Homo sapiens: one gene and its partners. The protein of the gene in region 2 purifies or fractionates together with the protein of the main gene of each other region. This does not show direct contact. Each region holds a gene or a part of one and is shown on either strand. Other genes may lie near its edges. The genes, in order: AP1M2, AP1S3, AP1G1 and AP1G2.

What was found.
Region 1: the proteins of AP1S3 (region 2) and AP1M2 purify together in Homo sapiens (affinity purification with mass spectrometry; 3 studies listed by BioGRID and IntAct, with this or other methods). This does not show direct contact.
Region 3: the proteins of AP1S3 (region 2) and AP1G1 purify together in Homo sapiens (affinity purification with mass spectrometry; 2 studies listed by BioGRID and IntAct, with this or other methods). This does not show direct contact.
Region 4: the proteins of AP1S3 (region 2) and AP1G2 purify together in Homo sapiens (affinity purification with mass spectrometry; 2 studies listed by BioGRID and IntAct, with this or other methods). This does not show direct contact.

Annotation. Positions count from the first base shown.
Region 1 is NC_000019.10:10,583,715-10,591,768, reverse strand, and holds the start of AP1M2 (AP-1 complex subunit mu-2), read left to right. Parts: upstream 1-4,456; 5' UTR 4,457-4,537; coding exon 4,538-4,579; exon of another isoform or gene 4,580-4,614; intron 4,615-7,698; coding exon 7,699-7,855; intron 7,856-8,054. UniProt on the Homo sapiens protein: Subunit of clathrin-associated adaptor protein complex 1 that plays a role in protein sorting in the trans-Golgi network (TGN) and endosomes.
Region 2 is NC_000002.12:223,834,026-223,842,452, reverse strand, and holds the start of AP1S3 (AP-1 complex subunit sigma-3), read left to right. Parts: upstream 1-4,870; 5' UTR 4,871-5,002; coding exon 5,003-5,005; intron 5,006-8,427. UniProt on the Homo sapiens protein: Subunit of clathrin-associated adaptor protein complex 1 that plays a role in protein sorting in the late-Golgi/trans-Golgi network (TGN) and/or endosomes.
Region 3 is NC_000016.10:71,728,128-71,736,245, reverse strand, and holds the end of AP1G1 (AP-1 complex subunit gamma-1), read left to right. Parts: intron 1-1,538; coding exon 1,539-1,637; intron 1,638-3,086; coding exon 3,087-3,188; 3' UTR 3,189-7,246; downstream 7,247-8,118. UniProt on the Homo sapiens protein: Subunit of clathrin-associated adaptor protein complex 1 that plays a role in protein sorting in the late-Golgi/trans-Golgi network (TGN) and/or endosomes.
Region 4 is NC_000014.9:23,558,733-23,565,575, forward strand, and holds the end of AP1G2 (AP-1 complex subunit gamma-like 2), read right to left. Parts: exon of another isoform or gene 6,724-6,843; intron 6,468-6,723; coding exon 6,387-6,467; intron 6,109-6,386; exon of another isoform or gene 5,995-6,108; intron 5,929-5,994; coding exon 5,830-5,928; intron 5,657-5,829; coding exon 5,601-5,656; intron 5,490-5,600; coding exon of another isoform or gene 5,432-5,489; exon of another isoform or gene 5,428-5,431; coding exon 5,314-5,427; exon of another isoform or gene 5,125-5,313; coding exon 4,984-5,124; intron 4,907-4,983; coding exon 4,852-4,906; intron 4,771-4,851; coding exon 4,648-4,770; intron 4,551-4,647; coding exon of another isoform or gene 4,473-4,550; exon of another isoform or gene 4,367-4,472; intron 3,862-4,366; coding exon 3,772-3,861; intron 3,684-3,771; coding exon 3,556-3,683; intron 3,376-3,555; coding exon of another isoform or gene 3,360-3,375; exon of another isoform or gene 3,345-3,359; intron 3,335-3,344; coding exon 3,230-3,334; intron 3,142-3,229; exon of another isoform or gene 2,904-3,141; coding exon 2,780-2,903; exon of another isoform or gene 2,700-2,779; coding exon 2,564-2,699; exon of another isoform or gene 2,365-2,563; intron 1,687-2,364; coding exon 1,523-1,686; exon of another isoform or gene 1,305-1,522; and 5 more. Other genes in the region: THTPA (thiamine-triphosphatase), read left to right, coding at 1-108.

The DNA of each region.
Region 1 (8,054 bases), on a different chromosome or scaffold from region 2:
GGGCCACCCTCACTTATGGTGAGCACCATTTAAGCCAGAGTTAGTGTTACTAATAGTAATATTTGCATCCAGCAATATAGCAAAGCAGGCGGAAGCAGGCTGGGACCAGATTCTTAAATCCCGGGACTCAGATTCGAATTCTGGGTCAACTGCCTCCTGGCTCTGGGGCCGTGGGCTTGGGCAGGTGCCTTCACTTCTCTGTGTCCCTGCTTCTACCTTTATAAGATGGCACGAAGGAGACTTGTGCCAGATGATAACTTTTTATTTTTCATTCTATTTATTTATTTTCTTGAGACGGAGTCTCACTCTGTCACCCAGGCTGGAGTGCAGTGGTGCCATCTCGGCTCACTATAACCTCCGCCTCCCCAGTTCAAGTGATTCTTCTGCCTCAGCCTCCCAAGTAGCTGGAATTACAGGCATGCGTCACCACGCCCGGCTAATTTTTGTATTTTTAGTGGAGACAGGGTTTCGCCATGTTGGCCAGGCTGGTCTCAAACTCCTGGCCTCAGGTGCTCTGTCCACCTTGGCCTCCCAAAGTGCTGGGATACAGGCATGAAACATTGCTCCTGGCCCAGATGATAATGTTTTAATTAAAGTGCAGTGCTGCTGTCAATGTTGATGTTAATTTCAGGTGGAGAGGCAAGTGGATGATCCTGATAGCTGCTGTTCTCTAAGTCCCCACCTACAGGGGCTGATAAAGGGCTGGGCAGGGTTTGGGGAAAGGACAAGTGAGGTCTGGGTAGGCTGAGTCTTGTTCCCTGCAGGCCCTGCAGGACATCTCCCTCCCTCAGCCAAGCAAGGTGGTTCTAAGCAAGGCTGAGGTTTACTTTCCCTTTCCTTCTGCCCTGTCCTCAAAACTACCGCACTTTGGGAGGCTGAGGTGGGCGGATCACGAGGTCAAGAGTTCGACAGCATCCTGGTCAACATGGTGAAACCCCATCTCTAATAAAAATACAAAAATTAGCTGGGCATGGTGGAGTGCACCTGTAGTCCCAGCTACTTGGGAGGCTGAGGCAGGAGAATCGCTTGAACCCAGGAGACAGAGGTTGCAGTGAGCTGAGATCGCACCACTGCACTCCAGCCTGGCGACAGACTGAGACTCCATTTCAAAAGAAAAAAAAAAGGAAAGTCCAGGGGTGGAATCTGGGTCTGCAGCAGCTGGTGTGCACGAAACATGCATGGAGCCAGGGGCCATGCCAGGTATTTGGCTATGCAACTGCAGGAGAGGGCACCATGGCTGTTATACCCATTTAACATAAGAGGAGACTGAGGCACAGCAGGTGCATTCACCAGCCCATGCCTTATAGCCAGTGTGTGGTGGTATCAAAAATCAAACCCAGCATCTGTGCTCTCAACTGCTACATCATCATCCAGATCATCATCTTCATCCTCCTCCTTCTCAGCGACATGGTTGACAGTCAGCTACATCCAAGTTCCCTTCCAACACCACGTTGCACAGAATAACTCATTTAATCTGCACAAACCAGGCACAGTGGCTCAGACTACGCCTGTAATCCCAGTACTTTGGAGGGCCAAGGGGGGAGGATCGCTTGAGCCCAGGAGTTTGAGACCAGCCTGGGCAACATACCGATACACCATCTCTACAAAAAATGTAAAAATTAGCTAGGTCGGGCCGGGTGCGGTGGCTTACACCTGTAGTCCCAGCACTTTGGGAGGCCGAAGCGGGCGGATCACGAGGTCAGGAGATCCAGACCATCCTGGCTAACATGGTGAAACCCTGTCTTTACTAAAAGTACAAAAAGTTAGCCAGGCGTGTTGGCAGGCGCCTGTAGTCCCAGCCACTCGGGAGGCTGAGGCAGGAGAATGGTGTGAACCTGGGAGGCGGAGCTTGCAGTGAGTTGAGATCGCGCCATTGCACTCCAGCCTGGGTAACAGAGCGAGACTCCATCTCAAAGAAAAAAAAAAATTAGCTAGGTGGGCCTGGCCTGGCGCGGTGGCTCACACCTGTCATCCCAGCATTTTGGGAGGCTGAGGCGGGTGGATCACGAGGTCAGGAGTTCAAGACCAGCCTGGCCAAGATGGTGAAACCCCCGTCTCTACTAAAAATACAAAAAAAAAATTAGCCGGGCGTGGTGGCAGGCGCCTGTAATCCCAGCTACTTGGGAGTCTGAGGCAGAGAATTGCTTGAAGCTGGGAGGCAGAGGTTGCAGTGAGCAGAGATTGCGCCACTGCACTCCATCCTGGGCGACAAAGCCAGACTCTGTCTCAAAAAAAAAAAAAAAAATCAGCTAGGTGTGGGCCAGGCGCAGTGGCTCACGCCTGTAATCCCAGCATTTTGGGAGGCCAAGGCAGATGGATCACGAGGTCAGGAGTTCGAGACCAGCCTGGCCAACATGGTGAAACCCCATCTCTACTAAAGATACAAAAAATTAGCTGGGCTTGGTGGTGCACGCCTGTAATCCCAGTTACTTGGGAGGCTGAGGCAGCAGAATCGCTTGAGCCTGGGAGGCAGAGGTTGCAGTGAGCCGAGATTGTGCCATTGCACTCCAGCCTGGGCAACAGGACGAGACTCCAAATTAAAAAAAAAAAAAAAAATTAGCTAGTTGTGGCCAGGCGCAGTGGCTCACATCTGTCATCCTAGCAATTTGGGAGGCCAAGGCGGGTGGATCACCTGAGGTCGTGAGTTCAAGACCAGCCTGACCAACATGGAGAAACCCTGTCTCTACTAAAAATACAAAAAAAGTAGCCGGGCATGGTGGCGCATGCCTGTAATCTCAGCTACTCGGGAGGCTGAGGCAGGAGAATTGCTTGAACCTAGGAGGCATAGGTTTCAGCGAGCCGAGATCACATCACTGCACTCTAGCCTGGTAAACTAGAGCAAAATTCTGTCTCAAAAAAAATTAGCTGGGTGTGGCGGTTTGTGCCTGTAGTTCCAGTTACTAGGGAGGCTGAGGCAGGAGGATGGCTTGAGCCCAGGAAGTTGAGGCTGTAGTGAGCCATGATTGCATCACTGCAGTCCAGTCTAGGGTACAGAGTGAGACCCTGTCTCTACAAAAAAAGTTTTTTGGCTGGGTGCGGTGGCTCACGCCTGTAATCTCAGCCCTTTGGGACGCTGAGGCGGGTGGATCACCTGAGGTCGGGAGTTCGAGACCAGCCTGGCCAACATGGTGAAACCCCATCTCTATTAAAAATACAAAATTAGCCAGGCGTGATGGCGCATACCTGTAATCCCAGCTACTTGGGAGGCTGAGGCAGCAGAATCCCTTGAACCCGGGAAGCGGAGGTTGTAGTGAGTAGAGATCATGCCACTGCACTCCAGCCTGGAGTCTAAAAAAAAAAAAAAATTAGCTGGGCATGGTGGCGCTTGCCTGTAATCCCAGCTACTAGGGGTGCTGAGGCAGGAGGATTGCTTGAACCTGGGAGGTGGAGGTTGCAGTGAGCCAAAATCATTCCACTGCACTCCAGCATGGGCAACAGAGTGAGACTCCATTTCAAAAAACAAAAAAAAATAAATTTTTTATTTGAAATGAATAAGAGTAAATTTGTAAGAATAATAAAAGCAAGTACATTTGTCCTGCTCGGAATTATATCCACAGTTCCTGTTACTGAGTGAATGAATATTTCAAATTCAGTCAGTAAAATTCACCAGTGAAAATTATTATATGAATGAGTGAATGAATGAATTGGGCAAATTTTGAGCACCCAGTGCTGAGCACTAGGGACATAAACATGAACAAGACAAAGTCCCTGCTGTATGGGGGCTGACGTGTGTGGGTGAGACAGAGGAGAAAGAAGGTGAATGGATGGATGAATCAATGAGAGGATGAATGAATGGATAGATGGGTGGATGAATGGATAGATGAATAAATTAATGAATGCAAGAATGGATGGATGGATGGATTGATGAATGGATAGATGAATAAATTAATGATGCAAGAATGGATGAACGGATGGATGGATGGATGGATAGATGAATAAATTGATGAATGTTAGAATGGATGAATGGATGGATGAATGGAAAGATGAATAAATGAATGAATGCAAGAAGGGATGAATGAATGGATGAATAAATGGATGGATGAATGGATAATGGATAGACGAACAAATAAATGAATGCAAAAATGGATGAAGAAATGGATGACGAATGGAAGGATGGATCAATGAATCGATGGAAGATGGATTAATGAATGGCTAAATGAGTGGATGCGTGGATGGATTAATGAATGCAAGAATGAATGGATGGATGGACGAATGGATGGATAGATGAATGAAAGGAAGGATGAATGAATGGATGGAAGGATGGTTGATTGGTTTGGGGTCTCCACCCGTCATTACTCCTGGGTGGCTAGGGAAAGTGAAGGGGGGCAGCAGACCCATCTGAAGTCGCAGTACCTCTCCCGGCCCCGCAGCCATCTTCAAGTTGGCCGACAGCGCTGCTCACCTGGCCGCCTCCCCTTTAAGACGCACACACCTGGGCTCTCACCTGGGCGCAGGCGCTTCCGCAGGAAGAAGGAAGCGGCGCCGCCATCGCCTCCCGGCGCTCCCTCCCCGACTCCTAAGTCCTTCGGCCGCCACCATGTCCGCCTCGGCTGTCTTCATTCTGGACGTTAAGGGCAAGGTGAGGCTGGGCATGAGGAGTTGGGAGACGGACAGGTGAGGTCTCGCTCCCAGGGATTCAGGGGCGACCCCTCCGCGCGGGCCAGGAAGAGGTCTGGGAACACCCCCTCCCCCTGCAATCCCTGGGAATCCCACCTCCAGCATCCACTCGCCTTGTGCCTGAGGCCAAGGGGTTCGCCTCCTAGGGCCTCAGTTTCTCTGTATGTAAAAATGGGAGCAACAGAGGTCCCCACCCAATGAGAATTAATACAACTCGCTGCGTGTAAACTACTTAGCATAGTGGCCTTTCTGGAAATATTAGGGACTCAGCAAATTGAAATTATCTCCATCACTGTCGGCATCCACAGTGTTAATACCTGGGGAAGGCAACTGGAACAGGGGCCTCTAACTCCCCCCATCTGTGGCTGCCTTGCCTCTTCCTGAAGTCCTTTTATTCCTCTTGTCTTTTTTTATTTTGGAGACAGGGTCTCTTGCTGTCTCCCAGGCTTGAGTGCAGTGGTGCGATCATAGCTCACTGCAGCCTGGAATTCCTGGGCTCAAGCGATCCTCCTGCCTCAGTCTCCGGAGTAGCTGTGACTACACAGGTGCAGGCCACCATGCCTGGCTAATTCTTGACATTTTTTTGTAGAGGGATCCCGCTATGTTGCCAAAGCTGCTCTCAAACTCCTGAATATCTGGGGCTGCGGGCTGACCCCTCCATGCCCGGCTATTTTTAATTTTTTTTTTTTTTTTTTTTTAAATAGAGTCTTGCTCTGTCACCCAGGCTGGAGTGCAGTGGCTCCATCTTGGCTCACTGCAACCTCCACCTCCCGGGTTGAAGCAATTCTCCTGCCTCAGCCTCCCGAGTAGCTGGGACTACAGGTGCATGCCACCATGCCTGGCTAATTTTTGTATTTTTTTTTTTTTTCAAGACAGAGTCTCGCCTTGTCACCCAGGCTGGAGTGCAATGGCATGATCTTGGCTCACTGCAACCTCCACCTCCCAGGTTCAAGTGATTCTCCTTCCTCAGCCTCCTGAGTAGCTGGGATTACAGGCGCGCACCATCACGCCCGGCTAATTTTTTGTATCTTTAGTAGAGATGGGGTTTCACCATGTTGGGCAGGATGGTCTCAATCTCTTGACCTCGTGATCCGCCCACCTCGGCCTCCCAAAGTGCTGGGATTACAGACATGAGCCACTGCGCCCGGCCGCACCCGGCCTATTTTTTATTTTTATTTTTTTGTACAGATGGAGTCTTGCTATGTTGTCCAGGATGGTCTTGAACTCCTGGTCCCCAGCTATCCCCCTGCTTCAGCCTCCCAAAGTGTTCGGATGACAGGTGTGAGCCACTGCAGTCAGCCTGTCTTGTCATTTAATAGCCAAAATAAGAGTGGTGGTGAAAATAATATTCCCATTAATATTAATAGTGAGAGCTAAGATGTTTGAGAACCTGCCATGGGTCCTCCCTGTTCAGACACTGGACAAAACAACCTTAGGAAGTGGTTAACTAATTTTTTTTTTTTTTGGAGATGGAGTCTCGCTCTGTCACCAGGCTGGTGTGATCTCAGCTCACAGCAACCTTCACCTCCTGGGTTCAAGTGATTCTCATGCCTTAGCCTCCTGAGTAGCTGGGATTACGGTCATGCGCCAGCACACCAAGCTAATTTTTGTATTTTTAGTAGAGACGGGGTTTCATCATGTTGGCCTGGATGGTCTCGAACTCTTGACCTCATGATCCACCCGCCTTAGCCTCCCAAAGTGCTGGGATTAAAGGCGTGAGCCACCGTGTCCAGACAGAAGTGTTTACTATTATGGGTGTCTTCCTGACTACCAGGCACAATCATATGAACTGTCATCTTTCTTTCTTTCTTTCTTTCTTTCTTTCTTTCTTTCTTTCTTTCTTTCTTTCTTTCTTTCTTTCTTTCTTTTTTTCTTCTTTCTTTCTTTCCTTCTTTCCTTCTTTCCTTCTTTCTTTCTTTCTTTTCTTCTTTCTTTTTTTGACAGGGTCTCACTCTGTTGCTCGGGCTGGAGTGCAGTAGTATGACCACAGCTCACTGTAGTCTCGACCTCCTAGGCTCAATTGATTCTTCTGCCTTAGCCTCCAGAGTAGCTGTGACTACAGAGGTGCAGGCCACCATGCTCAGCTAATTCTTGAAATTTTTTGTAGAGGGATCCCGCTATGTTGCCAAAGCTGGTCTCAAACTCCTGGCCTCAAGGGATCCTCCTGCCTTGGTCTTCATGAGTGAGTCATTGCACCTGGCCTCTTCTTTGTTTTTTTTTTTTGTTGTTGTTGTTTTTTTAAATAATCCCACTTTGGTGCAAATGAAGTCTGGGGCAACAGCAGGGATTCTGGACCCAGGATGCCTTAGATCAATCCCCAGTTTCCATATGCTTCCAGTGGACATGGTTTCTAACCTCACTTCTCCTGTGTGAAATGGAGATGATGATAACATCTACCCCACAGGGTTGTGGCAAGAACTAATAAGTTAGTAAACATCTACTCTTTTTTTAGTAGCCAGCCTGCCTGCCTACCTTCCTTCCTTCCTTCCTTCCTTCCCTCCTACCCTCCCTCCTTCCCTTCCTCCCTTCCTTCTTTACTTTCTTTCTTTCTTTCTTTCTCTCTTTCTTCTTTTGAGATGGAGTCTTGCTCTGTCGCCAGGCTGGAGTGCAGTGGCACGATCTCGGCTCACTGCAATCTCCGCCTCCCAGGTTCAAGTGATCCTCCTGCCTCAGCACCCCGAGTAGCTGGGACTATAGATACACGCCATCACGCCCGGCTAATTTTTTGTATTTTTAGTAAAGACGGGGTTTCACCATGTTGGCCAGGATGGTCTCGATCTCTTGACCTCATGATCCACCCGCCTCGGCCTCCCAAAATGCTGGGATCACAGGCGTGAGCCACTGCGTCCAGCCATCGCCTACCCTTTAATAAAACACAGCCTGGCACTTAGTGAGGGCCCTAGACCCATTAGCTGTTGTCATCACACTCCCATTTTACAGAGCAGGAAACAGGCACAAGGAGGCAGAGCCTTGCCCAAGCCCCTCAGCTAGGAAGTAGGGTCAGAACCGGGCACTGTGCCTCCTCAGCGTGGTAGGTTCTTGGATGCTGGTGGTGACCAGGTCCTTTCCTTCCACCCTCAGCCATTGATCAGCCGCAACTACAAGGGCGATGTGGCCATGAGCAAGATTGAGCACTTCATGCCTTTGCTGGTACAGCGGGAGGAGGAAGGCGCCCTGGCCCCGCTGCTGAGCCACGGCCAGGTCCACTTCCTATGGATCAAACACAGCAACCTCTACTGTATCCACCCCACGTGGTGTCCCTGGAGGTGGGTGTGGGGGCTGTCGGCGATGGTGGCAGCTCAGGCCAAGAGAGGGTGGGCTGAGGACAGGAGTTGCACCGCACATCTCTGTGGCTTAGGCTGGGGGGCAGGGGCAGGTAGAGATGAGGGTGGTGGCAAGGGACAGGGTGGAGGTTCGGGGTCTGTATTCCATTTACT
Region 2 (8,427 bases):
CTCCCAAGTAGCTGTGATTACCGGCATCCACCACTATGTCTGGCTAATTTTTGTATTCAGTAGAGATGGGGTTTCACTATGTTGGCCAGGCTAGTCTCGAATTCCTAACCTCAGGTGATCCGCTAGCCTCAGCCTCCCAAAGTGCTGGGATTAGAGGGGTGAGCCACTGTGCCCAGCCTAGAGTGAGGTTTTAAAATAACACTTTTCTGTGTTTTCCAAATCTGCAATGAACCTATATTATTTTATAATTAAAAATTTTCTGAAAATATTCTTTAGAAATATATTAAGTAGAGTTTTTCCATTTGGAATAATAGGCCCTCTTTTGAAAAGTAAAGGGGGTTTCTAAAGAGCATAAGGCCTCATACTAAAAGTTTCACCATGACAAGATGAATTTCTGAATGCTGCAGAAGGGATTACTGGAGATGTTGATTACTTAAGACATTAATAAGAGGGCATTAAAGAACAGCAGGACCAGGCTTCAATTAATGCCTGTGAAGGCACTGCATAAGCCGACTTTGAAGTTGGCCTCTCCTTTGCTTCTTTCAGTTTCTTAAACTCACAGCTTGATCTATCTCAATTTCTGTGAAGTCAGTATTTTGGTTTATAGATTATTATTATTTTACTTTATTATCAGGTCCCTAACTTGCTCTTCTCCCTTGCTGTGGACTTGATGGTGGCTTTTGCTGCATTCTCTCTGCATCTTCTGCTAATATTTAAATATAGAATGATCTGAGAAGTGAAACTCCTAAATCAAGTTGACCAAATGCCAGGGCATTGTTTTATGAGTAAATGTACACACACAGAATCACATGCACCAGCTCATAAACAACCTAACCGGAACCATGTAACACACTGTACTTGTCTTCTAGGACATTAGATTTTGAATCTAAAAGCCTCTTTAGGATCTGACCAGGGAACTCCTCTTTAGACTGGTACATCTTGAGTGATAGGGCCTCTGGGTCCTCCCTGGGGTTTTGCTATTTGTGGGCCACGTGTGGAGTCAGGAGTTTGAACAGAAGCAAAGATGGGATACAGAAGTCAAGACTAAGGCTGGGTGTGGTGTCCCATGCTTGTAATCCCAGCACTTTGGGAGGCCAAGACAGGAGGATCCGTTGAGGCCAGGGATTCTCGAGATCAACCTGGGCAACATAGTAAGATCCCATCTCTACAGAATTTTTTTTTTAAAGGAGAAGTCAAAGCTTAAAAATGCATGTTATTCTTCTGAGACAAATGACTGATGAAATAAACACTGCTTAACTCTCACTGTTGCGTTCTGAGTAGGTCTGTCAGGGGTAGGGCTTTAGGGGGAACCATCTTGAATCTTAGTGCCTTGATTCTAGGCTTATCCCTGCCTCTTATTAGCTTCTTTTTACACTTAGTTTATTATTATTATTTTTAAAATAGAGATGGGGTCTTCCCATGTTGCCCAGACTGATCTCAAACTCCCGAACTTAAGCAGTCCTCCTGCCTCGGCCTCCCAAAGCGCTGGGATTACAAGCCTGAGCCACTGTGCCCGGCCTGCCTCTTATTATTGCTGTTGAGCCTCTGAGCCTCAGGCTTTCATCTGTACCATGGCCACAGTGCTTCCTTTCTTACGGATTGTTTTGGGGGCAGCCAAGATAACCCTGTGAAGTGTCCAGCTCACTGCAGGCCTCCCTCTTCGGTGATTTGGGGTATGGTGTGAGAATCTGGAGGAAAAAACACTGGGTGGCAGAGGCCCCAGAGAGCATCCTCTGCCCATCTCAGCCAGGCCAGGAGGAAAGGCAAAGGACACTAATAATTTTTAAGTTACCTGCCCCCCTCAACCTCTACATCTTTAATTACACCCCCTCCAACCATAAGCCACACAGTAAGGGAAACTTCTCCTGCTTTATTTTTTTTAATTTTTATTTTTTGAGATGTAGTTTAGCTCTTGTTGCCCAGGCTGGAGTGCAATGGCACAATCTCGGCTCACTGCAACCTCCATCTCCCAGGTTCAAGCCATTCTCTTAGCCTCCCAAGTAGCTGGGCTTACAGGCATGTGCCACCATGCCTGGCTAATTTTTTGTATTTAGTAGAGACAGGGTTTCACCATGTTAGTCAGGCTGGTCTCAAACTCCTGACCTCAGGTGATCCACCTGCCTCAGCCTCCCAAAGTGCTGGGATTACAGGCATGAGCCATCGCTCCTGGCCTTTCCTGCTTTAATATTTGACTTAACTGTCATGGCAAGAGCACTGAGATGATTTCTTTAGCTTTTTTTTTTTTTTTTCCTTTTTTCTTCTGCGAGAATCTCGTAGTGTCGTCCAGGCTGGAGTACAGTGGGGATCTCGGCTCACTGCAAACTCCGCCTCCAGGGTTCAAACAATTCTCCTGCCTCAGCCTCCTGAGTAGCTGGGATTATAGGCACCCGCCACCACACCCAGCTAATTTTTGTATTAGGGGTTTCACCATTTTGGCCAGGTTGGTCTTGAACGCCTGACATCAGGTGATCCCCCCGCCTCAGTCTCCCAAAGTCCTGGGGTTACAGGCATGAGCCACGGCGCCTGGCCTGAGATTTCTTTAGCTTTGTAATTCACCTTTAGTAATTCCATTTCTTTCCCACTAGCAAAGAAACCCTTACAGCACAAGGCTCTGGATGGTGGCACAGAGCTGGGCCCTGCCCTGAAGTTACCTAGAAAGGAGGAGAAGCACAAAGATTAGATTCTATCTAGTTAGATAAAGCATGATGTACTGAGAAAGGGAAGGAACAGACCCTGGGGGAAGAACATAGGAGTTAAAAAGTAGCTGTCCTAGATTCACTTTTCTTTCAGGAAGCAAAATCATCCCATCGCCTGGGGTTTAACTGTTGTCAAATAGTCCTCTTCCAATGCCCCCGGCAGAATGCCACAAGTCCAGGTTTGAGAGCTTTGAGGCTGGAGGCTGTGGCTCTCCTGGGGGCTTGCAGTGATGCCCTAATGTAGAGAACACTCATTGCCTCTGGCCCCTGCCCACCTCTAGGCCTCCTGGCACTTAACTCACATAGAGGCCTTTTTTGAAGTGTTTCCAGAAGGACTTTTTTTTCTTCTTCTTCAGAGCGCTGGCTTCTCACATCCAAGTCTTCTGTCACCTCCCCAGGGGGCACTTACCTGACCACTCAGCTAAATCAATGTAGCTTCCCTGTGCCCATCCGAGGAACTCAAATATCTCCTTCTTAGCACTCATCTTAATTTCTTATATTTTATTTACTTGTTTATTATGTGTTGTCCCACAAGAGACGTAAGCTCCAGGAGACAGACCACCTGTTTGTTCCCAGCTGGGTCCCCCAGGCTCCTGTTGTAGGGCCTGGCCTAGAGTGATGAATATTTGCAGTGTGAATGCAGGGGTGGATGGAGTTTCCCATATTTTCAGTCACCTGGGTGGGCCTACATCCCTAGGAAGGTACACAACACATCCTGGGAAGGACTTTCACTGATTTGGGGTTCCAGGGACCACCCAGGAAATGACATTTTTTTTTTCAGACTGAGTCTCACTCTGTTACCTAGGCTGGATGATCTCAGCTCACTGCAACCTTTGTCTCCCGGGTTCAAGCGATTCTCTCCTGCCTCAGCCTCCCTAGTAGCTGGGACTACAGGCGTGTGCCACCACGCCCAGCTAAATTTTGTATTTTTAGTAGAGACGGCGTTTCACCATGTTGGCCAGGCTTGTCTCGAACTTCTGGTCTCAAGCGATCCGCCCACCTGGGCCTCCCAAAGTGTTGGGATTACAGGCATGAACCATCACGCCTGGCCCAGGAAATGATTCTTAACTTTTGCAGGGTCTAGGATCTCTTTAGCTATTTGATAAAACCAGTGGACTCCCTTTCTCAAAAACATGAATATGCATTAAAAACTCTGCTTACATCTAGTCTATCTGGTAAATATAATTAAAAGAAAAAAGAAAAAACTCTGTTTACAGCTTGGGGGTTTAGAGACTCTCAACGCCCTAGATTTAAGAAAAGTCAAGGGGAGGAGAGATTGGAGAACGAACTTTCTACACCACAACTTCTTAGGAGAGACTTCTTAAAAGGGGGTCGTGCTGCCGGGCGCAGTGGCTCATGCCTGTAATCCCAGCACTTTGGGAGGCCGAGGCGGGTGGATCACCCTGAACGCAGGAGGCGGAGGTTGCAGGGAGCCGAGATCGCCCCACTGCACTCCAGACGGGGCGACAGAGCGACACTCCGTCTCTAAATAAATAAATAAATAAATAAATAAATAAATAAATAAATAAATAAATGGGGGCCTGCTTAAAATGATCTTTGCCCTTAGACTGCAGAGCTTACTTTTTAAAAAGTGAAATGGGGGCAGAAGGGGATAAGAAAACGCTTCTAGTTCTTTCTCTTCCAACTGCTCCCTCCCTAGGAGGCTTAGGATAAGGCAGCCCCCGGCACTTTCTGCGAGTGTATCGGAAGTATCTTTGCCAGGTTTGATAAACGTTTGCGGAAGGAATACAGGACACACTCGCGCGGCAGAATCGCGAAAAGTCCCCGGTGTTCTCCGCGCAGGGAGTTCCCCGCGCAGGGAGTTCCTAGCGGGCCACGCGCTCTCGCCTGACCACCCGCGCCGAGCTGCGGGCTGTCGGGGTACAGACGCCCGCGCGCGCAGGTGCATTCGCTCCAGGTGCGGCCGGCTCGGGGCGGGAACAGCTGCAGCCGAGGCGGGGGCGGGGAGGGGGTACAGAGGAGAGGCAGAAAGGAGGGAAGAGGAGGAGGAGGAGGAGAAGGGAGGAGAAAGGGGAAAGGAAGAAAGAAGGAGAGCAGGAGGGCGAGGAGCGGGGGGAGCGGGGAGGAGGGCGCGGGGAGGAGGCAGCGGGGAGGAGCGTGCAGGGAGGAGGCAGCCGCGCTGGGAGGAGTCTGCACACTTTCAGTGCCAGGGCATTGTGGGAAGCAGCCATGGTCTAAGCCGGGCGCCTCACCTGTCAGCCGCACCGGCTCCAGCGCTCGCCTCTCGCCCTCGCTTCTCCAGCGCTCCTTGCTCGCAAGGCGGGGGAGGCGGCGGCCCAGCCACGATGGTGAGTGCGGGGGAACCGCCGGCCCGGGTAGGCGGTGGGGGCGCTCGCGCTCCGGGGAGGCACCTGGGGCGTCCGGGCCGGGCGCGCGGCCGGGTGGGGGTGCGGGCCGAGTCCCGCCTGGCCACCCGAACCGTGCGTCCCTGTGGCCCCGCTGCCCCAGACGGTGCGGACGCGCCAGGATCGCTTGCCCGGGATTCCTGCGGCAACGCGGCGCCGCGGCGCCGCGGCTCCATTCATTCATTCGATCCGCCTTAGCCGAGTGCTTAGTCTGTGCCGGGCTCGGTGCTGGGCGCTGGGGATGTCGCGGGGGACCAGGAGGAGCCCCTGTTCTCCAGGAAGCTTACCTTCCAGGAGGGGGATGCGGAGGGAGGGACACGTCCAATATACAAGTAAAATGAAGAGAACTTCTAAAGTAAGAAGCGCTGTAAAGTCTCAAATACAACCGGGTGGAGTGGCAACTTTTGATTTGGCAAAGCCTCTTCAAGGACATGACATTCTAGCTGCTGGAGGTCCTGGAGGGGCGCTACAGGTGGATTAGAGAGAGCAAAGCGGAGGGGAGAAGGCCTTGTTTGTGGCAGGAGAGGTGGGCTTCTGCCAGGTGAGGCGGGTTTTTATAGGCCAAAATAAGGAGTTTGGTTTTGGTTCCAACTGAGTAGGGGAAACCTCGGGGACGTTTTAGCAAGAAAACTGACCTTACCCGTTGTGCACTTTTGTTTTTTTGAGACTGATCTCGCTCTGTCGCCCAGGCTGAAGTGCAGTGGTGTGGTCTCGGCTCTGCCTCCCGGGTTCAAGCGATTCTCCTGCCTCAGCCTCCCGAGTAACGGGGATTACAGGCGTGTGCCACCACACCCAGCTAATTTTTGTATTTTTAGTAGAGACGGGGTTTCACCATGTTGGCCAGGCTGGTCTCGAACTCCTGACCTCAGGTGATCCGCCTGCCTCGGCCTCCCAAAGTGTAGGGATTACAGGGGTGAGCCACTGCACCCGGCATGGTGTGCAGTTTGGCTGTGGTTGGAGAATGGACTGGGGTGTGTAAGGGCAGGGGATAGGGGGTCAGGTTGGAAGCTGAGGCCGGCCGCAGCCCTGCTGATGAGAGATCTGGTGACCTGCACTTGGGTGGAAGCGATAGCTCAGGCTCCTCTTGCTCTTGCCTGCTGTTTAGGGGCAGCCTTTTAAGAGTGTGGTGGTCTGAACGTCACTAGTCCCACTTCCCCAAGTGTGTTACCACTTCCCAAATCCGCAGAAGGGAAGTGACCTGCACCCTGTGGGCCCACCGGAGGCAGGAGTGGGTGGGCCACGTGGGCTAAGAAAGTTGATCAACAAAGAGAGCCGGGGAGTGCTGAGCACCTGGCCAGCAAGACCGCAGTTGCTGGTTTCTGTTAAAGGTTTGGCTGCACACACTAGCGGCATCATTTTTGTCTGTTGAGGGTTCCTTGTAAATACAGCGTGATGCAAAAACAATGCTGTAAATAATGGAGCAGGTTTCTTGGCTTGCTCAAGTTTCCCAAGGAACAAGGTGACAGATGCCCAGTCCACCAGTGTAATTTGCCTAACAGAGGCTGGAATAAGGCCCTGCGTTTCTGAGTCATCAAAGGCTGCTTTTGTGCTGAGGAATGGGCCAAGGTTTGGTCTATAAGGAAAAGCTGCTCCTCTGGACAATACCTGTGGTGGAGTTTTATTTTTTCTTGCTGGTGTCATATGTGTGATGAGTTGATCAGAAATGTGGGAAGTTTCTCCAGCTTTTCTACCAGTTTTTGCTAAATGGGAAACATTATTATTATTTTTTTTTCTTCGAGACGGAATCTTGCTCTGTCACCCAGGCTGAAGTGCAGTGGCATGATCTTGGCTCACTGCAACCTCCATCTCCCGAGTTCAAGCAATTCTCCTGCCTCAGCCTCCTAAGTAGCTGGGATTACAGGCGCCCGCCACCACGCCTAGCTAATTTTTGTATTTTTAGTAGAGACGGGGTTTTGCCATGTTGGCCAGGCTGGTCTCAAACTCCTGACCTCGTGATCCACCTGCATCGGCCTCCCAAAGTGCTGGCATTACAGGCATGAGCCACCGCACCTGGCGGGGAAACATTAATGTTATTGGGCATTTGTGATAAGACAAGCAGGATGTCCTGCTCTTTATATTCACGATCTCATTCAATCCTTGCAACAAACAATTGAGGTTAAATCTGTTATGCTCATTGCATTTTAGCTACTCTGAGCTATTCTAGCAGTATGGCCTTGGACAATTCCTTGACCTCTCTGTCTCAGTTTGCCCATTTGAAAAATGGAGATAATATCTCCTAACTCATAAGGCAGAGGTTCTGAAAGTGTGACCTGGGTACCCCCAGCAGTCCCCAAGACTTTTACTGGAGGTCTGCAAGGTCAAAACTATTTTCATAATAATACTAAGATATTAATTTTCCCATTTCATTCTCATTCTCACAAGACTACAGTGAAGTTTTCTTGTGTCTACATAAGCTGAGATAGTACAACAGATTGAACACAGATGCAGATAGGAAAGTCCAACTGTCTTTGATAAGCCCAGACATTAAGGAGATTTGCAAAATTGTAAAACAGTGCCATGCTTTTCACTAATTTTTTTTTTGCTTTGGAAAAATATTGTTATTGGTCATAAAAATGTTATTTATGTTTAATGTGTAATAGGTTTACTATTGTTTTTTCTTTTTATTTATTTATTTTTGAGACAGGGTCTCTGTGTCGCCCAAGCTGAGTGCAGTGGTGTGATCACAGCTCACAGCAGCCTCAACCTCCTAGGCTCCAGCAACCCTCCTACCTCAGCTTCTTGAGTAGCTGGGACTGTAGGCATGTCCCACCATGCCCAGCTATTTATTTATTTATTTATTTTGAGACAAGGCTTGTTCTATCACCCAGAGTAGAGTGCAGTAGCATGAACATGGCTTACTGCAGCCTCAACCCAGTGGACTCAAGGCATCCTCCTACCTCAGCCTTCCATGTAGCTGGGACCACAGGTGTGTGCCATCATGCCCAGGTAATTTTTTGATTTTTGTATAAATGAGGTCTTACTTTGTTGCCTAGGCTGGTCTTGAACTCCTGAACTCATGTAATATTCCCACCTTGTCCTCCCAAAGTGCTGAGATTATAGGCATGAACAATTGGGCCCAGTGGAATTTTTTACTTTTTGTAGAAATGAAGCCTACCTATGTTGCCCAAGTCGTATTATTTTAAAATATGTTAATATCTATTTTTTCATTTTAATTTCAAATACAATAAATATCAGTGGATATAACCCACATAAACAAAAAGGTCTTTGGGATTGGCAGGCGGATCACCTGAAGTCAGGAATTTGAGACCAGCCTGATCAACATGGAGAAACACTGTCTCTACTAAAAATACAAAATTAGCTGGGTGTGGTGGCGCATGCCTATAATCCCAGCTACTTGGGAGGCT
Region 3 (8,118 bases), on a different chromosome or scaffold from region 2:
TGAATTACGATTGGTATCTTACATTTAATGAAATATGGTAGTAATGAATAATACTTTAGCTTACATAATTTTAATGTGGCAGAATTATGAATAAGACCATATATATATATATATATATATATATATATTTTTTTTTTTTTTTTTTTTGAGATGGAGTCTCACTCTGTCACCCAGGCAACCTCTGCCTCCTGGGTTCAAGCAAATCTCTTGCCTCAGCCTCCTGAGTAGCTGGGATTACAGGCATGCGCCACCATACCCAGCTAATTTTTGTATTTTTAGTAGAGATGGGGTTTTGCCATGTTGACCAGACTAATCTAGATCTCCTGACCTCAGGTGATCTGCCCGCCTTGGCCTCCCAAAGTGCTGGGAATACCGTGCCCAGCCCCCAGTGTAATATATCTGTACATTGAGAGTGAATCTTCACTCTTGCAACTTTTGGCCCTAGAGAAGACTAGTGTCTCTCTCTCTCAAATATTTTAGAAGTTTAATCTACTTTTAGGAAAGATTTTCAAATGCTAGTTCATACAATAGCTACGTAGTACAGTATGGTTTACCTAGCTTGCCCTATATAGCACTTTTTTTTTTTTTTTGAGACGGAGTCTTGCTCTGTTGCCCAGGCTGGAGTGCAGTGGCACAGTCTCGGCTCACCACAACCTCCTGGGTTCAAGCGATTCTCCTGCCTCAGCCTCCCGAGTAGCTGGGACTACAGGCATGTGCCACCATGCCCAGCTAATTTTTGTATTTTTAGTAGAGACGGGGTTTCACTGTGTTGGCCAGGCTGGTCTCGAACTCCTGACCTCGTGATCCGCTCGCCTTGACCTCCCAAAGTGCTGGGATTACAGGCTTGAGCCACCACACCCAGCCAGCACTTTCAACTCTTATTTCTATAAGCAAGCAAATAAACCCCACCAGCATTCAACAAATTAATACTGTTTGGCTTATCTAGGTCTTTTGCTGTATAGGCTGGTTCTGCAAGTCTTTCCGTTCCTTCTGTCATGTGGAGAGGAGGCTCTGACACATTATAGATTATGCAGGCTTTAAAAAACAAAAGTTCAAGTCTCTGCATCCCAGTTATCCAATCACACAAAAGCCTAAAAGCTTATAGTTGGTGACCAGTATGTTGGTTTGCTATTTTTGGGAAGCTTTTCTTTTCATTTCTTTCTGGCTGTTTTTTAAGCCAAAAGCACCGATATTTTACTTGCATAGTTGATCAGTTACCATTAAGTGAAGTTGCCAGAAGAAGAATTGGTCAGCTTTTGAAAAGAGGTAGGCTAGAATTCCTTCTGCCAGAAAGGAGAATGTGGTTTATTACTAGTTGTCATGATCAAAGAACCGAACAGTGGATTTTTACAAATACCACAGGGAGTCAACTCACGTGCTGTGAATTCCTGATATCTAGAAAACAAGTAGTAGGCAAAACTTAGTAGTAGTGAAATCTGTTGCTTGACCCATCATCTGGGTGTCTAAATGGTTTTTGGTATCTCTGACCTAGCGTTGTGTAATTCTTTTTCTGAAGAGTGCCCTTTGTTCCCCCCTAGACATTCCAGCTGCAGCTCTTGTCTCCTAGCAGCAGCATTGTCCCAGCATTTAACACGGGGACCATCACACAAGTCATTAAAGTTCTGAACCCTCAGAAGGTGAGTAGCACATTTGTAGCCAATATCTGAGCCGAAGTGTAAGCATATTTCCCGAAATAAAATTCTGCTTTGTTTCTTTAGGTTTTTCTGACTCATAGTTAGAGAAGAGATCAATGAAAATGCCTGGTCTAACTTCCTTGCTCTTTTGTAAATAACAAATGGAACCCAGAGACATCAGGTGGCTTAGTGGCATCTTATTAAAATGCAACTTCAAAAAAAGCTAGATTAAAGGTCTGGTTTTTGGGGGTAGGGGAGAAGCTTAGACATTTTAATTTATACACAAGTTGAAATCTGAGGTAAGAGCATTTGTTGAAACCAAATACCTACATTTACTGCTACAGTTATTAAGTATGAATAGAAAAATAGAGGCATTTTAAATGAAGCAGCCAAATGAAAAATAGCTTTAGAAACTGAAATTAAGCAATATTTTTATTATCTCTTCTCAAAGAAATAAGCTCACCTTAATAGTAATCAGTTGGTTTTCAGTTTTTGAAAATGGTTCAGAGAATTTCTTTAATAGAGCTCTACTAGTTGCTCATAAGTAACAGTATACTTTCTTTCTCTTGTAACACTTGCCTTTCCTCTGCTATTCACTATATTTTGAGCATCGGCCTCTATAGTACAAGCACAAACTCCTTTGACCATCTGATACAGAGAGTAAAAAATGTCTTAGTGCATTTGTATTTGAAATCTGCCATACAAAAAGTGTCTAATTGAGTTCTCTTAAAACTACTGCTGTTACCTGTGAGTTAAGTCATTTTTTAAAATTTTATGCTTTAGGAACAAAAGGTCATGTTCACATTTACTGTAGGTTTTTCAGATAAAGCAACAGTGTATCTGAATGGAGAGCGTACGATGAGTATATGTTCACCTCATTTTTTAAGAGACTTGGATACAAGGTTTGAATCTTTTTGAAAAGGACTCAGCAAAATGTTACTAGGAGAATGCTCCATGGTGGCTCACGCCTGTAATGCCAGCATTTTAGGAGGCTGAGGTGGGTGTATTATCTGAGGTCAGGAGTTGAAGACCAGCCTGGCCAACATGGTGAAACCCCGTCTCTACTAAAAATAAAAATATTAGTCTGGTGTGGCGGTGAGCCAAGATTGTGCCACTGCACTCCAGCCTGGGCAATAAGAACAAAACCCTGTTTCAAAAGAAAAGAAAAGAAAAAATGCTCCCAAGGAGTTCTGTCCTTTTAATGCAGTTCAAGGATTAAAGCTAACCGTGTATTCTGCAGATGCGCTTTCTCAACTTGGTGGCATGACATTGTTAGCTTCTTGGCTCAAGCCTAGAGTACTGGGTGTTTTTTGTTGTTGTTTACCTGTCATTCTTAACAGACAGCTTTGCTTTAAGTTTTGACCTCTAAGATTAAAAGTCTATTTGTGGACCGGACAGATTCTGGAGATTTCATTTCAGTATATAATTTGCACTTCTCTTTTCCTCTTATAGCAACAGCTGCGAATGCGGATCAAGCTTACATATAATCACAAGGGCTCAGCAATGCAAGATCTAGCAGAGGTGAACAACTTTCCCCCTCAGTCCTGGCAATGAGGGTTTGGCACCATTCTCATTCTTTATCCCACTCAATCAAAGGAACTCTGGGAAGGAGGTTGTGATTGCTGGCAAGTCCCCCCCAACTGTACCACGGGCATGAGGAGCTGAAGAGAACTGCTGAGGAGGATTTTCCTAAAGTTACTGCTGACCTTGAAGCATTGTTAAAGACTAATGTCCTCTCCTCCACTGTTGAGGCTGGCTGCTTCTGGAGGCTACTTTGCACTCTTCCTCTTCTCCTTTTTCCGCACTTCTCCACCCCTCCCACATTTACAGCCAGAATCAACATTCCCTGGGCCCCTGAGGAAATAAGCAGCTGGTCTGGAGGAGAGGACTGCAATCCATGGCGAAAAAACACTCACTTTGTCTCTGCAGCAAAGAGTTGCCCCTTCTTTCTACTGTTGTTTCTCTGTGGACTGGGCAAGGTGGGGTATTTATTCCTCACTAGCTGGGTTACCATCTTCAGGCACTTTTAACATCTGGCATTCGGAATGGAAATGTAATAATGGACATTAGGGAGCCCTGCCTTTTTCTACTGGTTCCCCCAATGTTTGAAAGAGGCATTAGGCTCCTGGTAGCCTTTTCTGTGCATTGCTGTATACACACAGACACACACATGTATGTTTGTTACCAAGAACTGGTCAGACCTTGCGAGTTTATTTGTAAACACTGGACAGATGGAGTTAAAAAGAGCTTTTGTTGAGATTTGGCATGAAGGATATGGTGCTCTATTTGTAATAGAAACTTCCAAGGCTCTTCCAGCTCCCCTTTCTCGCCATTCTTTAGCTGTAGTCATGAATAGTCTCCATGATTTTCAAAATTGATTCCCTTTAAAGTGCAAAATGGTCACCTTCTAAAAGATATATTCATAGTTATTAATGACCCTATTCCCACCACAAATTTTAAAGTGCTCCTAAGCCCATAACTTGCCTGTTTGAACTATGGTAATGGGTGGAAGAGGAGTTCACCAGTTTCAAAGATCAGACTCTGTATCAAAAGTACCTTTGCCCTTAGGAAGAGTGAGTATTGGAGTCATCTTATCTATTACTCCAAACCTCCCTTTTTATTTCTTGAGCCTGGCTTGGACCTTGGCATTCCGTTTGAATTCCTTCTAACTGGAACATTTGTGTTGTATCTGTAACACTGGCACTGAAATAAAGACCACACGGTTAAAGAAATCTTTCCATATTGTACTTTATGGTGTTGGAGTGAAGCCTTGTAGCTTCCATACCCCTATGTCAGAGGAGGTCTTACGGACACCATAGGGTAGGAATAGCCTTTCCTCAGTCTGAGAAATTGGTCTCTTTTAAAAGACGAATCTCATGAATATTCACATCAAAGACTTGAGCTTTTTAAACTAGTGAGAGTGCCAAGTGCTTTTTAGAAAGGACCCATATGTTATCAAACTTTGAAATTGAGTTGCTGGAATGAAGTAGAGGTGACTCTCTCTGTGGTACACATTGAATGTACTATGTATGTTCAAGTATTCAGGCGCCATGTCTTATATACTGAAGAAAGAAAAAGTGAGGCCCACCTTGCTCTTACAATGTTTGCAATTGTTACTGTATTGAATACAGTATAATGACTACTATGGCTTCAATCTTAAACCTGGAAACAAATATCCCTTTTTTTCCCCTTCATTTCACCAAGCCTTTACTTAAAATCTTCAGTGTCTTGTCAAATCTAGCTCTGTATCAGATGCTGGAATATTCCTAACATTTGACAAACTGGAGTTGAACTAAAGGCTCCACGGGAAAGTTTCTGGTCTTACTAGTGTGTATGAGCAAGATCTGCTAAAACTTACTCCACTGGGTAAATGGTTGACTGAGTCAAGAACAGGATAATATCTCCTGCATAGTTTTCAGTAATGTAAGTGTGGACTAGTGCATATTTCAGACAACTGCTCTGCCTGTGCAATGAAAAATAGCCTTTAAGGGTTTCTTTGCAGACTGATTTCATTGGATGGATACTTAATGCTGTGAAACATGATAGGATTAACATAATGTTGGTGGATTTCTTGAATAGAATTTGTCTTAACATTCCTCTTTGTGTAGAGGCTTTATTTTCTCTCTTATATTTGTAGCTAACCAGCTCAGGTTTTTTTATTTGAACTGGGTTGAATCTCTGAAGAAATCTGTTCAAGACCATGCTATAAGACACTGTCAGCTAATGGAGCTGGGAAGGGTCTACTCTGCTGACAGAGCATTTCCTTGGGTGATCATAGTTTCGAGGTAGAGTTTATGATCATTCATAGCTTTGTCTAGAAGGAGTAAAATATCATGGCCTTAACACAAAGGGTGCTGCGTAGAATATGAATTGATTTTGGAATCAGAACACAAGCACCATACTGAAGGACTAGCAGCCAAATAACTGCCTAGGATACTGATGGTTGTGAAGACTGTTTCAAATGATTGGATCTTTGAAAGCTTCAGCGTGCCTTAGTTTCTAGGATCAGAATTAGTTTTCCTCTCACTTGGCCTTGCAGCTAAATGGAGAAATGTTTCAATTTCTTTGAATACTTGCACATTTCAATAATTCCTTTCCCGAGTATAACCACTCAAGGGGGAGCAAATTTGGATGGATTTACGACTTCACAGGCATTGTGAGGAAAGAGCATTTTCCAAGGCTGTTTTGATAACCCTGGGGTGATAAGCAGTGAGCCCTCACACACTTACTTTGACAATTTCACATGCACTTGTACTTCATTATTTCCCTCTTCAAGAGTCGTTTCTATTCTAGTTTCTGCCCCATCCCGGGGAATCCTAAAGGAGAATTAATTCATCTAAGTAATCTCAAAAAACTGTAGGAAGGGTGCTCTCCCTGAGAAGCTTCTCCCACAGTGCTTTGGTGCTGTTACCTTGAGGTGGTTTGGACAGTCACGGAAGTTTTAGGCTGTGCATAGTGATCATCTGTTAATTTTAAGGTCTTTATCATTTAAAGAAACATTCCTCAGTGTAACATTTGGGAGGGGATTCTTTCCTCTTGCTAGTTTAAAGGTGTGATTTGTACTCCTTGTTTGTCCCATTCATATATGAAAATAGACTTTTAAAACTGTCCAACACTAATGGTTTATATAACATGCTTCCCATTTTTTTTATGTCGTAGAAATTGGAAGTTAGGGAGTACTGCTTTCAAGGTTCAACTTCATTATCTTCTGCATTGGAAAATATTTGGGCCATGAGAACTAGGGGAAAGGAGTTTGAATGTGTCTATTTTTTTCTAGTGAATGTATTTTAACCACAGTGTCCTAAACTGAGAAAACTAGAGAGGAAAAAGTGGGTGTTCATGAACTTTGTAGTTGGGAGAGTGGTTTTACATGTCTGTGTATTCATGACTTTGGGAGTGGGTAGGATCATTGGAGAGAGAATTGCACAGAAAGTCCTGAAGTTTAAAACACTTTTGACCAGCTTTGGCTCGGGAGAGTGGGGCTGCTTGTAGAACTGGAAGTGAATAACTTTTTCAAGCAATATCAGTGAGTGGGTCCCATCGACAGGGTTCCAGGACCTGGAACACTTTAACAGAAGGAAATGCCGAAGCAGCTTGCACAGTTGCTTTACAGACTTCCAAGAGGCTGATTCTGGCTTCAAGATGGAGCCTTGGAGTTGGTTTTTTTTTTTTTTTTTTTCTTCCCTCAAAGAACCTGCGGTTGCGCTTTGTGTGTTTTGTTTTTGTTTTCCATTTGGGGGCCCCATGGGAAAGAGCTTCTGAACTCTTTCCTTTATGAACTCCCACTGTGTTCCTATAAAGGCCCTTTTCTTTCTTAGTGTTGTAAGTTACATTTTCATTATGCCCCATCACATCTTCTTTACTGTAAAAATATTAAAAAGCTGTTTCCAAGTGGGACAGCTAATGAAGCTCTAATTATTGCAGACATATTTTTGAGATGTAAAAAAAAAAATTTAAAGTTAAATGATAAGTCTTAGAGGCGAGTGAGGAATAAAATGGATGTAAACATTTACATGGGATGCATTAGAATTCTGCTGTGTGTACTGTCTTTTGGTTGAAACAAATTATGAACAGTGACTAATAATAAAAAGTCAATACCCAATGATTTAAAATTTGCTTCCTTGCTTCTTACAATTGGATTAGAAGACTTAGATGAATTCTTATTCCAGAGGTTGAGCTAACTTACTGACCTGTTAGTATTCCTTTCACACATAAGTCTCACCAAGAGAGGAATTTGAATCACTTAAAAACTTGTAGCCAGGCGCGGTGGCTCACGCCTGTAATCCCAGCACTTTGGGAGGCCGAGGTGGGCGGATCACCTGAGGTTGGGAGTTAGAGACCAGCCTGACCAACATGGAGAATCCCTGTCTCTACTAAAAATACAAAATCAGCCACGTGTGGTGGCGCATGCCTGTAATCCCAGCTACTCGGGAGGCTGAGGCAGGAGAATTGCTTGACCACAGGAAGCGGAGGTTACAGTGAGCCGAGATCACGCCATTGCACTCCAGCCTGGGGTGACAAGAGTGAAACTTCATCTCAAAAACAACAACAACAACAAACTTGTGTTATAGACAGTAAAAAAGTCCTAAGTGCAATTGGACATTTTAACTATAATATGATTAATTTCATGCTTAATCTCCATAGGTCAATTCTCAAGGCAGAGAAACCAAGATGAAATGTATATTAAGGGTGGTTATGGGTTTTCTTTATAAGCTGCTTTTTGTGAATTTTTCAAGTGTATCTGTGACTGGGCAGAGGAAGGCTTGACCAGTCAAAATGAGTTATATTTCATGGTCTATTTTATATGAACTGTGTATTTTGTATATATTAACTTTTGTAGGGATGTGGTCTTGCTATGTTGCCTAGGCTGGTCTTGAACTCTTGGCCTCAAGCAATCCTCTTGCCTCAACTTCCCAAAGTGCGGGGATTACAGGCGTAAGCCACCGCACCTGGCTTGTCTTTTTTTAAGACAGAGTCTCGCTGT
Region 4 (6,843 bases), on a different chromosome or scaffold from region 2:
GTGTATCTACAGCGTTTCCGGCCTCAAGACTATCAGCGCCTGCTAGAAGTGAACAGCTCCAGAGAGAGGCCACAGGAGACTGAAGATCCTGACCACTGCCTGGGCTAGGGGTGTCACTTCCTAGAAGGGGAAGGGAACTCTGGGTCTAACGGAGTCCACTCCTGGGCCCACTGTGCCTCTCCCCTCAGTGTCCCTTCTGACAGTGACTCCTCTCTCTCCAGCGCTGCCTGTTTCTTCCCCCTCCTCTAAGCTACTCTTCCTTGAGCCCTCCCTGGCTGCTTCCTCTCGCTCATCCGTCAGATGCAATCTGTGGGCCGCCCCTCTCCCCTGGCCGCTAAGCAGCCTCCATTGATTTCCGCTCGTGTTTATAGGATTTCCACTTAGCCGTGATCAGTAGTTAAGCACAGGAAAATCCCTTGCCACCCCCCCTCCCTTGGTCGATGCCATTGATTCTGCCAGCGGCTCCTAAACCGCCTTACAGCTGAGTTAGAAGATGAGGAGAGGCAGCAGGGATTTCCCTGCCTTGGGATGTGGGAAACAGAAGAAAAGTTGAGGAAATGGTTGGGAATCGCTGTTAGAACTCTAGAAATTCTAATCTGACTTTGCCACTGTGCCCAGCTCTGGCCCAGAGGGTAGAGTGCCTCCTGTGGAAGTTTAGGGGCAAATTTGTTCCCTGACCTGGAGAGGGTTAGAAAGAACCAACAGCTGCCCCCTCCCCGCCCCCGTGTTGAGACAGGTTCTCAAGGCTCAGGGGAAGATGCATACCTCCTATGTAAGAATGCTCTTCCCTTGCTGTTATTCATACACACTTTCCACTTCAAATATACCCAAATATGGCTTTCCTCACTTCTCAGGCTTTATTGGGCTTTATTTGTGGGAGAAGGGGGCTGGTCCCCAGTTTTTGCAGTGCAAAGCCAGAGCGCCACCTGCTGGTAGCCCTCAGGTGTAGGTTCGAAGCTGCTGGGGCCCCCTGGGGTTTGGGACACAGGAGAATTTCAGGCTGTGAGTGGAGACAGTTACTGCCACGATTCCACAGGCAAGTTGTTCACCTCAAAGATCTCCTGCACCGACTGGTGAAAGTGGTCGTAGGTGAGGCGCAGCTTTAGCCGCAGGGGGGCCTAGGAATAGGAGAGCAGGGACCAGGGTTAGCACCCACGGCTTCTTCTATCCCTGGGTCTTGTCTTGGGGGAACTCCTGAAGCTCACCTTGTTAGGATTGAGGATTCTGAAGAGCTGGGTGATAGGAAGGCCACCCCGAGCTGGAACTGTGTTCCCACTGGGGGCCTGCAGCTGCAGCTGGAGACTCTGAACACAGGAGTTTAACAGAGCACAGTATGGCAGTAGGTAGGGCTCAGGCAGCCCCTCTATACTCAGTGGCTCCACACCCTTTTCCTGTAACTCCCCAAGTGCTGATCTCCAGATGACTCAATCCCATCTCACACTGTCTCCCACCCACCTCCTCCACTTAGTGGCCTTTTCTCCTGGAGTCCCCAGGCCACCTCTGAACTCTGATCTTTACAAACCTTGGGCACAGCAGCCTGGCAGATGAAATGGGTGACATCACCCTCTGAGAAGTTGGTGGCAGTGATGGTGATTAACAGCAAAGCAGGGTTTTCAGGGGGTCGAATGAAAGACAGATTCAGCTGTACTCCCTCACGCTCAAACACTTTGAGATCTGGGATGGGAGCTGGAGTAGGGAGACAGAAGCAGCTCAGTGTGCAGGTTTGAGAGAACATGTTTGTTCATTCATTCAACAAAAATTGAGTAAACACCTACTGGCCCTGCACTACTCGAAAGGCTAGTAACAAAGTAGACATGTAGATGAGGATGGAGCTTACTGTCTAATGGGGGAGAGAAACAATAAAAAAAGGCCGGGCGTGAGCCAGTAATCCCAGCACTTTGGGAGGCTGAGGTGGGTGGATCACCTGAGGCCCGGACTTGGGAGGCTGAGACACAAGAACAGCTTGAACCCGGGAGGCAGAGGTTGCAGTGAGCCGAGATCACGCCACTGCACTCCAGCCTGGGTGACAGAGCAAGACGCTGTCTCAAAAAAAAAAAAAAAAAAAAAAAAAAAAAGGCAAGATAATTACAGACCATAATAGATGCTATGAAGGAAGTAAGTCATGCCAGAATAACTGGGGAGAACTGACTTAAATAGGAGTGGTAGGGGAAGGCATCTGACATTTTAGCTGAAGCCTGAAGAGTGAGAATGAGCTGGTCATTTGATGTGCTGGGGAAAGAACATTCCATGTAAAAAAGAACATGAAATGCCAAGGGTGGGAGGGTGTGAGGAGCTGAGAAGGGGGCAGTGAGTGGGTAGTGGGAAAGTGGTATAAGAAGGGTTGGGGAGGAAGCAGGGCCCTGTAGGCCAGGGAAAGAAGTCTGGAACAAAGGGAAGACAGATGACCATGATTGACTTCATTCTTTTACCTCCTGAGATGGCGATGGGATGGGGGACACACAGGAAGAAGCAGGGTCCATGAGCCTCAGCCCTTGGCTTAGGAGGAGGAGCAGTACATTTCCACCTACCTTCTCTAAGACATCTTCCCTTTGCTTAGGCTTACCTGGGGGTGGAGGTACACAGGGAAGGTCAAGCAGGTGTACCAGGGCACCTCCTGGGGAGGGGTCCAGATGGGGAGGATGCTGGACATCCCCAGAAGCCCCATCCAGGAGATCTAGCAGATCCAGGAGCTGTGAGGCCTGGCAGAAGGGACAGAAGGGGCAGGGCTGGGTATGAAGCTCAGCCCGTCTTCCTACCCCAGAGTTTCTAGCCTTCTCACCTGGGGCTCTGTGGGCACTGGGGCTGCTTCTGAAAGCTGGGCTGCTTCTTTGCTTTCCTTTGCTTCCTCATCAGCCTGAGGGCCATCTCGCTCCACAAGAGGCATTTTTTCCAGGATGGCAGCCCTGAGAGGATGGAATGCAAGTGTGCCTCTGTGTGGTCTCTGGGCCTTTCACAAGAGGCATCTAGGATGAGGACTAGGAATATGGAGCCCTGGGCACATGGTGGCTCAGAAGTACCCTTCTGATTTCCTAAAATGACATGTTGTTGCTGATTTTCAGATGAACAAGGAGGGTTGGAAGCCAGCTTAGCTTCAATTAACAGTGGGTGGGAAGCTCTCACCGTGGATATGGAAGAACACAGGTGAGGATGAGGCCCTTGTACCTAGAAAAGGGCATTTGGGAGAGGGCAGGGGTTTGGGTCCCATGCTGCAGCACAGTGCTGGACACACCTCATGTGGTCGTATTTCCGGAAGAGTGTGTCATACTCCACAGCCCGCTGCTGCAGCTCCACGTCCAAGCAGCTCCCGTAGATGGACACCACCTGGCGGATGCGGCTGGGCCAGTGTAGTATGTAAGTGGCTATGGCAGTGTGCCACTGCAGGATGTGGCAAGAAGGAAAGGCCCACGGAGCAGGGAAATACCCAGATTTGGCTCAAAAACAAGAACCTAAGGGCTAGGGGGTAGGGAGGGCTGGGCATGTATGCCTGGAAAGAAACTCAAAAATGGGTGGACCCAGTGACAGGCCATCTCTCAAGGGGCTGGGACCCCTTCTTACTTGTTGTCCCCACAGAGGCGAGTGCTGAGCTTCATGAGGGCTGTGAGGGCATATCCTCGAGTGGCTGGCAGGGACATGTGGGACTGCAGCACCTTTTCCAGCAATGCCAGCACTTCCTCTTCGTCCACCTTCAGACATGGATACAGTTAGTGGCCCTGGTGCAAGTCCTGTCCCCCTGACAAGTCCCTCCTCAGTGTACCCCCAATGAGGTCTCACCTGAAGGGGCTCAATCTCCTCGCAGTTCCCTGCCAGCAGGAGGTCCCCATACTCCCCAATGCACCAGGCTGCCACCTGCACCAGTGGTTGCTACATGGGATAAGAAACTGCTGGGCTGGCCAGGCATGGTGGCTCAAGCCTGTAATCCCAGCGCATTGGGAGGCTGAGGCGGGAGGATTGCTTGAGACCAGGAGTTCAAGACCAGCCTGGGCAACAAAGCGAGACCCCCCCCATCTCTATTTTAAAAAAAAAAAGAGAGAGAGAGAAAGAAAGAAACACTGCTGGGCCAGTGTCTGAGGTCCCCTCCTCACTTCCAGACCTGGCAATATCCCTTTAGGCAGTGCAGAGATGGTGGGGGGTTGGAGGAGTGGGGAAAGGGAAGTTTGTTACCTGGCTCCCACTGCCCTCTGGTGGCCAAGCATCAGAACTACATGGCCTAACCAAACAGGATGGAAATGTGAGAGGGTCCCTCCCTTGTGGAAGGGGTGGATGATGCTTTCTGCCCACCCTATTTAATTAAGATGGAAAAGGGGGCTATAGATACTGGCTGGCATCTGTTAATTCATTCAGCATTCAAGGTAATAATAAAACCTCATAAACACAAGAGCTTTAATCTCAAGGCAGCTCTAAGAGGCAGTCAGGGTACATGGAGCATAAGGGAAGTTAGTCATCTGTAGTTACATAACCAGGAGGTACCAGAGTCAGGACAAAAGCCCAGATGTTCTTAAAAACAGGGCTCTGTGCTCAGATGTCTTCTGCACTGTGTAAGCAGCTGTGACCTTGAGAGAAAAATTGGAATCTAGTAGGGAGGAGGTGGCCCAGGATGGGCAAGGGAGTGGTTGGGCAGCCCTGGGCCTAGGTAGGTGGGAATGGTACCTGGGAAATGTCTTCTGCCAGGGCATTGTAGAGGCGGCGCACAGAGTAGGCATGTAGCTCCTGGGCCCCCCCAATCAGCTGGGTCAGGTTGGCCACTGCATCATCCCGCACATGGGTGCCCGCCTGGAAGGTGTGGGCATGGCCAAGTCAGTGTGGTGAATCTTGACCACTTCTGCCCAGCTCTCTGACTGGCCCCTGCCTCACCGTTGTCAGCACATGCAGGATGGTGTCTATGTGCCAGCGTTTGGTTGGAGCAAACCTAGGGGATATATGGCTCATCAGTCCTGGTACTGACGCTCCCCAGATTCTACCCTCTTCGACTCCTGGGCACCTCACCTCTCTGCAGCCAGCAGGATGCCTGAGGCACAGTCAGCCCGTAGGTCAGGAGGGCAGGACTCCAGAAAGGCCTGCAGCTCTTGCATCATGGCTCGCACATTGGAGCTATTTACCAGAGCCAGGCTTAGTTCCAGGGCTCTCCTGGCAGGAGAAAGAGGTTTCCATGCAGGTAGCCCAGGTCATCCTGGTCCATGCCTCAGGCCCTCTGCTTCCCCAGGGACCTGTCCCCCTTAGTCCCCTTACTCCAGCTGCTCTAAACTGGCTCGAGTCTTGGCCACAGGGCACTGGGAACCTCTGCCCTGCCCTCCTGTCCCCTCTATCACTGCTCACCGGCTGAGGGAGGCATCAGTTTCCCGTAGACATTCCACCACAGTGGGCCGATGCCGCTGCACAGCACTGTGATCAGACTGCACCAGTCGAAGCAGTGATGTCAGGGCTACATACCTGGTCAGGATGGGGGAGGTTCTATCATACCATGGCCATCAGCCCCCACTCCCCGTCCTGTCCTGGGTATAGGGATAAGATAAGAGAGAAATGGATCAGGAGGCTCTGGAGGAAGGAGGGCAGAGGGCCAGGGGATCAGTGGCACAGCCTAGGTAGACAGTTGGGACTATTACCTAATGTTCCTGTCACTGTTGAGTAGGAAGCGACCAAGAATGTTGACAGCTAGAACCTATGAGAGGCAGAAGTTGGGGTCAGTCGGAAAGGAGCAACCTGCTCAGCCATTGAGGACTGGGAACACATTGGCGCAAGATGATGGGGCTAGGAGGGAGAAACCAGCAAGCAGGACCTGTGTGGGTGAGGTGGTGGGCGGGGCCGTAGTGGGAGAGGCATAAGGGGTGATACCCGTAGGCCAGCTGCAGAGCGGATATCCATGATGGTGAGTACTGTCTCAAACAGGACCGCATTTCCGGCATTTCGGCTGGTGTCCGTGTTAGTGGCCACCTGAGTGGATGAGAGAGGAGATGTATCTGCTCAAGGCCCTCCTCAGGTCTCCTTTTTTTGATACAGGGTCTCACTCTGTCGCCCAAAGCTCACTGCAGCCTTGACCTCCCAGGCTCTGATGATCCTCCTGCCTCAGCCTCCTGAGTGGCTGGGACTACAGGCACATGCCAACAAGCCCAGGTAATCCTCAGGATTCTTGAAGGACTCCAACATGTTATCTGTCCATCCTTCAACCATCCAACAAAGTTCCCTGAGGCTCTACTATGTGCCAGGGCCAGCCTGGGCACTGGGGCAATAGCACTAAGACAGACTGTGTCCCTTCTTCATGGAGTTCACTGTCTAGAGGAGATGGAGAGGCAATTACACGGCCACTGCACAGTGACGAGTCATGTGAGGGGCACCCAGGGCTGATGGGGTCTCCAAGCAACACAGCTAACCAGTGCCCTCCCAGGCCCCACCTGGGCCAGCAAGTCATTCATGGTCTCACTGCTCTCCTCGTGGTTCCGGCCCAGGATCCGAAGCAGACGAAGTATCTGGACCTGAGGTTGGGTTGAAAATGGAAAGTTGGAGGGGTTCATAGGATAAGGAGTCGTGGGGCTGAGGAGAAAACTCCAACATGTGAGGGTCTGGCTCGCTCCCTAGAGCCTTCCCCCACCTCCTCACCTCCACAGGTCCCTTGGTCCTAGGAGGGGAACAGAGGTGTGTGAGGCCAGGGGAGTTTAGGACAGGCTTAAAAAAAAAATTGTTAACAAACTGTATTTTCCTGACTTTTAGGCATTCCCTCTCCCCTCACAGGTCCTGGGATGACCCGAGCAATCCTGTGCCTGCTACTCTGCTGCCCAGGACACTGAGAGAACCAGTGTTCTCTGGGAGGAAACCACTGGTCATGGTCTTACTGCTATGCCCTCTCTGATC